Homo sapiens: one gene and its partner. Changing the gene in region 1 together with any one later gene gives a genetic interaction. Each region holds a gene or a part of one and is shown on either strand. Other genes may lie near its edges.

What was found.
Region 2: changes in ALDH2 (region 1) and XRCC3 are lethal when combined (synthetic lethality), as found in Homo sapiens cells (one large-scale study listed by BioGRID).

The regions. Positions count from the first base shown.
Region 1 is NC_000012.12:111,801,355-111,805,165, forward strand, and holds part of ALDH2 (aldehyde dehydrogenase, mitochondrial isoform 1 precursor), read left to right. Parts: intron 1-2,504; coding exon 2,505-2,619; intron 2,620-3,811. UniProt on the Homo sapiens protein: Required for clearance of cellular formaldehyde, a cytotoxic and carcinogenic metabolite that induces DNA damage.
Region 2 is NC_000014.9:103,701,694-103,705,504, reverse strand, and holds part of XRCC3 (DNA repair protein XRCC3), read left to right. Parts: intron 1-2,177; coding exon 2,178-2,332; intron 2,333-3,811. UniProt on the Homo sapiens protein: Involved in the homologous recombination repair (HRR) pathway of double-stranded DNA, thought to repair chromosomal fragmentation, translocations and deletions. Part of the RAD51 paralog protein complex CX3 which acts in the BRCA1-BRCA2-dependent HR pathway.

The DNA of each region.
Region 1 (3,811 bases):
AGCCATGCATGCAATAGCATGGATTAATCTTGAACATAACATTGAGTGAAAGAACCCAGACTGTCTGGGTGCGGTGGCTCATGCCTGTAATCCCAGCACTTTGGGAAGCCGAGGTGGGTAGGTCACTTGAGGTCAAGAGTTTGAGACCAGCCTGGCCAACATGGTGAAACCTTATCTCTACTAAAAACACAAAACTTAGCTGGCTGTGGTGGCAGGTGCCTGTAGTCCCAGCTACTCGGGAGGCTGAGGCAGGAGAATCGCTTGAACCTGGGAGGCGGAGATTGCAGTGAGTGGAGATCATGCCACTGCGCTCCAGCCTGAGCGATAGAGTGAGACTCCAAAAAAAAAAAAAAAGAACCCAGGCACAAAAGGCCACATGCTGTGTGATTCCATTTACAGTATTATAAATATCTAGAATAGGCGAATCCATAGAGATAGAAAGTATGTTAGTGGTTGCCAGGGGCTGGGGGAGGGAGGAATGGAGAGTGCCTGCCTCCTGGGCACAGGGCTTCTTTCAGTGTGATAGAAATGTTCTGCAATTAGACAGTGGTGATGGTCACACAACACTGTGAATATGCTGTCAACCAGTGATTGTACACTTTAAAATGGTGAATTTTAGGCTGGGTGCAGTGGCTCACCCCTGTAATCCCAGCACTTTGGGAGGCCAAGGTAGACGGATCACGAGATCAGGAGATGGAGACCATCTTGGCCAATGTGGTGAAACCCCGTCTCTACTAAAAATACAAAAATTAGGCCTGGGCCTGGTGGCTCACACCTGTAAGGCCGTGGTGGTTCACACCTGTAATCCCAGCACTTTGGGAGTCCGAAGTAGGTGGAACATGATGTCAGGAGTTCAAGACCAGCCTGACCAACATGGTGAAACCCTGTTTCTACTAAAAATACACAAATTAGACGGGTGTGGTGGCATGCACCTGTAATCCCAGCTACTTGGGAGGATGAGGCAGGAGAATCGCTTGAACCCGGGAGGCAGAGGTTACAGTGAGTTGAGATCGTGCCATTGCACTCCAGCCTGGGTGACAGAGCAAGACTCTGTCTCAAAAAAAAAAAAAAAAAAAATTAGCCGGGCGCAGTGGTGGGCACCTGTAATCCCAGCTACTCAGGAGGCTGAGGCAGGAGAATCACTTGAACTTTAGAGGCAGAAGTTGCAGTGAGCCGAGATCGCACCACTGCACTCCAGCTTGGCAACAGAGTGAGACTCTGTCTCAAAAAAAGAAAAGAAAAAGGGCAGGGCGCTGTGGTTCACACCTGTAATCCCAGCACTTTGGGAGGCCAAGGCGGGCGGATCACGAGGTCAGAAGATCAAGACCATCCTGGCTAACACAGTGAAACCCCGTTTCTACTAAAAATACAAAAATTTAGCCGGGTGTGGTGGCGGGCACCTGTAGTCCCAGCTACTCGGGAGGCTGAGGCAGGAGAATGGCGTGAACCTGGGAGGCGGAGCTTGCGGTGAGCCGAGATCGCACCACTGCACTCCAGCCAGGGCGACGGAGCGAGACTCTGTCTCAAAAAAAAAAAAAAAAAGAAAATTAAAAATAGGCCAAGCGTGGTGGCTCACACCTGTAATCCCAGCATTTTGGGAGGCCAAGGCAGGCATATCACGAAGTCAAGAGTTTGAGACCAGCCTGACCAACATGGTGAAACCCTGTCTCTACTAAAAATAGAAAAATTAGCTGGGCATGGTAGCATGCACCTGTAATCCCAGCTACTCGGGAGGCTGGAGATTCGCTTGAACCTGGGAGGCGGAGGTTGCAGTAAGCTGAGATCTCACCACTGCACTCCAGCCTGGGCAACAGAGTGAAACTCCATCTCAAAAAATAATCTCAAAAAATAATAATAATAAATAAAAATAAATAAATAAATGGTAAATTTCAAATTCAAATAAAATTTAATAATTTTTTTAAATTGCAAAAAAAAAAAATGAAAGAAAAGAAAAGAAAGCCATCCAGGTGCAGTGGCTCATACCAGTAATCCCAGTGCTTTGGGAGCCTGAGGCAGGAGAATTACTTGAGGCCAGGAGTTCGAGACCAGCCTGGGCAACATAGTGAGACCCCATCTCTACAAAAAATAAAAGATAAAAAAATTAGCCAGGCATAGTGGCACATACTTGTTATCTTAACTACTTGGGAGGCTGAGGCAGGAGGATCACTGAAGACCAGGAGTTGGAGACCAGCCTGGGTAACATAATCAGACCCTGTCTCTTAAAAAAAAATTTATTGCCAGGCGTGGTTGCACGTGCTGGTAGTCCAGCTACTCAGGAAGCTGAGGCAGGAGAATCTCTTGAACCCCAGATGTGGAGGTTGCAACGAGCCAAGATCATGCCATGGCAACTCCAGCCTGGGCAACAGAGAAAGATTCTATCTCAAAAAAAAAAATTTTTTTTTAAGTTAAAAATAAAATAAAGACTTTGGGGCAATACAGGGGGTCCTGGGAGTGTAACCCATAACCCCCAAGAGTGATTTCTGCAATCTCGTTTCAAATTACAGGGTCAACTGCTATGATGTGTTTGGAGCCCAGTCACCCTTTGGTGGCTACAAGATGTCGGGGAGTGGCCGGGAGTTGGGCGAGTACGGGCTGCAGGCATACACTGAAGTGAAAACTGTGAGTGTGGGACCTGCTGGGGGCTCAGGGCCTGTTGGGGCTTGAGGGTCTGCTGGTGGCTCGGAGCCTGCTGGGGGATTGGGGTCTGTTGGGGGCTCGGGGCCTGCCAGAGGTTCAGGACCTGCCGGGGACTCAGGGCCTGCTGGAAGTTCAGGACCTGCTGGGGATCAGGGCCTGCCAGGGATTTAGGGTCTGCTGGGCGGGCCACCTTTTGGCCTCTCCCTCATGCTTGAGGCCATCAGTGTTTCCTACTAATTTCCCATTTTAAGCCTGAGAAGTGACAAGAGAGGGTAAAGACCCAGCCTCTGCTCTGTCCCATGAGAAATACTGAGGGACGTGCCCCCATCAGGCCTATGCGGTCATTTGCTGGGCTTCGTTATACGCCAAGGCCTGTAGGCCTGAGAAGAGGGAGAGACTTCAGGGGGCGGAGCGGAGAGGAAAAGCTTCTAGTAAGAATCTTTTCAGATTTTCACCAGGCGCGGTGGCTTTTCACCGGGCACGGTGGCTCACACCTGTAATCCCAGCACTTTGGGAGGCCAAGGTGGGTGGATCACGAATGAGGTCAGGAGTTTGAGACCAGCCTGACCAACATGGTGAAACCTTGTCTCTACTAAAATACAAAAATTAGCCAGGTGTGGTGGCGTGCGCCTGTAATCCCAGCTACTCAGGAGGCTGAGGCAGGAGAATCGCTTGAACACGGGAGGCGGAGGTTGCAGTGAGTCGAGATTGTGCCATTGCACTCCAGCCTGGGCAACAGAGCGAGACTCCGTCTCAAAAAAAAAAAAAAAAGAAAAGAAAAAAGAATTAGCTATTAGGTTGGAATGGAGCAATTCCCACAGTAATAAAAATATTTAAAAATAAATAATACAAACATAAGCTATTAGGCATGAGATATCAAGGCCCATAACCATATGCATCTCCTTTGATTTGCAACTTCAATGACTGGAATATAGCCTGAAGGACCCATCAGAAATACAAAGAAAGCGTTCCTTCCATAAATATTCATCACTGCTTTATCTCTAAGAGGGGAAAATCAGATGTAAACTTAATGCCCAATAAATTATGGAACACCCCAATCAAGGAGTAACAGGTATCTGTTACAAATGTTTTTGTAGAATATTTGATATGAAAAATGCTTAGCCTTTAAAGTAAAAGCAGTATACAAACTAATATATCATCAATATAAGCCCAA
Region 2 (3,811 bases), on another chromosome or scaffold:
CGGGCTCTGAAGTGATTCCGACTCCCGTGCTTAAGCCGCGTGAGGCTCTCCCAGGCCTGCTGGGGCCCCGCCCACCGCTGGGCTGTCCACAGCCACCCTCCTGCCAGCTTCACGATGTCCCCATGACTGTGCAGCCCCTACATAACGTCACCCCAACAAAAACACGCTGCTTGACCGGTTCCACCTGCTTCCGAGCCTTCCAGCCCAGCCTCTCTCCAGCCAACAGGACGGAGGAAGCCCAGGGCCCCGACCTTCCTGTGGCTCCTGACTAGGGGCACAGTCACTGCTGGGGACACTGGTGGGGAAGGGAACCAGCCACAAAAGGGATGTGGCCTCCCAAGGCAGTATTTATACGTTCCTGGCCTCAAGCGGGCCAGATGCTTCTCAGAAGCTTAGTTCTGACACAGAATGGGGCGGGGGGTTCCTGACCCATTTTTGCAACTCTTCTTTACGTTTGAAATTCTGTCAAAGCAAAATCAGCTCAGAATTAAAGGTTACGCGGACACTCACAAACAGGCTGCATGACACGGCGTGGGGGCACTGGCTCTCCCACAACTGCATGTGCCACTGCAGGAACAGGACGACGCCCCGTGGGCCACGGGGTCCTGGCTGGGCAGCCTTCCTGGCATAGTCAGTGCTTAGAGAGCTCGCCGGCCTTGTCTTTTTGTTTTTGTTTTGCAGGAAACTGGAGTTTTATTATTACTCAAATCAGTCCCCCTAAGCCTTCCTGTTTTTTAAATTGAGATGTAATTTACATGCCATAAAATTCCCTCTAAAAGTGTACAGTTCGGCCTGATAGGCGCAGTACCTCATGCCTGTAATCCCAGCACTTTGGGAGGCCGAGGCTGAGGCAGGCGGATCATGAAGTCAGGAGTTCGAGAGCAGCCTGACCAACATGGTGAAACCCAGTCTCTACTAAAAATACAAAAATTAGCTGGGCGTGGTAGCGCACGCCTTGTAATCCCAGCTACTCAGAAGGCTGAGGCAGGAGAATCACTTGAACCCGGGAGGCAGAGGTTGCAGTGAGCCGAGATCGCACCACTGCACTCCAGCCTGGGCGACAGAGTGAGTCTCTTGTCTCTCAAAAATTAAAATAAAATAAATAAATTCAGTGGCTTTTAATAGAAGCACAAAGTTCTGTGCCCGTCACCACTATCCAATTCCAGAACAGTTCCCTCACCCCAAAAGGAAACCCTACCCATGAGCAGTCAGCCCCCACCCCCAGCAGCCTGCCTCCCCTTTCCCTACCTGTGACTCTTCCTGTCCTGGGAGCTCCATGCAAGTGCAGCCGGACAGCACGTGGTCTCGTGACAGGCTTCCTGCATTGGCATTGTGTTTTCGAGGTTCATCCGTGCTGGAGCAGGTGTCAGAACTGCCTTCCCTTTTAAGATTCGATCATCCCACTGTAAGGATGGGCCGCACTTCATTCGTCCACTCCTCAGTTGATGGCCTTTGGGCCGTCTCCCCCCGGGCTGTCATGAAACGTGCTACGGTGGACGTTCTTTCTCTTGGGTATCTACCTAGGAGTGGGGCTGCTGAGTCATGTGATTTGTTTAACTTTTTAAGGAAGTACCGATTGTTTTCCGAGCTGCACCATTTTACATTCCTAGCGGCAGTGCACAGGGGTCAGGGGTCTGCCTCCTACACATCCTCACCAACACGTGTCTTTTCAAGCTGGCTTTTTGAATTTCACCATGGAGCCCAGATTGCAGGAGCTTTGAAGAGAGGAAACGCTTGCTCAGTGGGGGCCTTGAGGGTGGCCATGTGTCGGGGCTCAGGGGCCATTTCCAGAAGGCGTTGCCCTGATGCTGCCACTTGCTCCCTGCCCTGCAGTGGGGAACGGAGGTTCACAGGGGGAAGGAGGGGCAGGGTGGAGCAGGAGAGGCCTCCCATCTGTGGCCATTCCAGCCCAGGGCCCAGGACAGGGGAAGTCCTTGCCTGGGTGTCAGAAGTGGAGACCCAGCCCATATTCCTCCTGAGGGGTCACCTGGCCCCGGAGGTGGCTGCCAGTGGGAGGGTGAGAAAAAGCACCAGCCTCCTCCCTCCCCAGGCGAGGGGCAAAGAACCTGTGAGGGGCAGAGAGTTAGAAATGGCGGGAGACATCTGCACTTGATTTGTGTGGCAGTCACAGGCCCGTCTGGAGTCCCCTGGGCACATCAGGCACTCTTGCTTCCCAGGAGCCGTCTACATCTGCACGGAAGACGCCTTCCCGCACAAGCGCCTGCAGCAGCTCATGGCCCAGCAGCCGCGGCTGCGCACTGACGTTCCAGGAGAGCTGCTTCAGAAGCTCCGATTTGGCAGCCAGATCTTCATCGAGCACGTGGCCGATGTGGTGAGTGTGGGAGAAGCCCCATGACACCCCCAAGGCAAGCTATTCAGGACCATTGGGGCAGGTGTAGCCACCACGGCAATGGGGTCTCACAGCAGGGCAGGGAGAGTTGGGGCTCAGCTCTGAACACAGCATGGGTCATGGGGGTTTACGCCCGAGGAGCAGGTGGGGTCAGAGGATGGAGAGTGACTGAGAGGAACTGGCAGGGGAGGGAATTCTGGCTAAAGCATCCTGCCAGGACCCTTGCTGAAGGTGTGCCTTGGGGATCAGACGGCCTCTGGGGACTGTGGAGGATGGACCAGTCAGCTACTGAGGGCGACTGGATACGGAGAGCAGGGGTCCTGCTACAATCTCAGCAGGGATTGCCAAAACTGGATTTCATGAGGACGTGCACAGATGGGCCTAGGAGGAGGCTCAGGAGCCTGACGGCAGTTTGGCCAAACAGAATCCTGGCCAGGAGTGGCTGTGGGCCAGGCAGGCAGGGCGGCAGGCTGCGACACCCAGTTACATCTGAATCTCAGGCAGCTTTGAAGCGTGTTCTAGAATGAGGATGCCCATATTCAGATCAACTTTCTTCATGATCTGAAACTCAGATGTAACTGGGCGCCTGTACACCATCTGTCAACCTTGCCCATGAAGACGGAGTGGGGAAGAGAAGCCCCAGGCGGGTGGCAAGGACCTCCTCTGGGCTGTGGGCCCCTGACCAGCTGCCCCAGGAGACCACCGCCCTGAGAAGGATGCGACCTGCTCTCCAGGCTGCTGCCCTGGTGAGATAGCTGTGTTGGTTTCCCCTTGCCCCTGAGGGGAAGACGGCCCTCACTAGGGGCACAGGGGCTCCACCTGGCCAAGGCCTGCTGGGCACCCAGCTCAGACAGGTGACCTCAGATCCTTGACCACTGCCTGGCTGCTGGCTTCCCTGCAGACACTGGCTGGGCTTGGAGGAGGGACCTATGGCAGGGCCTTGCAGAGAGCAGGGGCCACTCACCGGGGGCCAGTGGAGTCCGTCCTGTAGCCAAGAAGCAGGCAAGAGAGGCTGGGACCCATCCCTGCAGCTGGGGCAGCAGTGCTGTGAGCTGTCAGTGCTTAGTTTATAGACATCATCCTGGGAGGGAGAAGTGATGAAGTAGAAAAGACGCAGAAGAAAAGATGGGACGTTTGGGAGTAAACCCCTGACCAAAGGCAAGTAAGGAAATTCCACCCTGTGCAGGGGGAGCGGCTGCCATGTCCAGCCCACCCTAGACATGGCTGTGGCCTGGCAGAGCAGCTCCTGGGTGGGCCTTCCCCCACTTCTCTTTTTTTTTTTTAAGACAGTCTCGCTCTGTCGCCCAGGCTGGAGTACAGTGGTGCAATCTCAGCTCACTGCAAGCTCCACCTCCCGGGTTCACGCCATTCTCTTGCCTTAGCCTCCAGAGTAGGTGGGACTACAGGCGCCCACCAACACGCCCAGCTAATTCTTTGTATCTTTAATAGAGACGGGGTTTC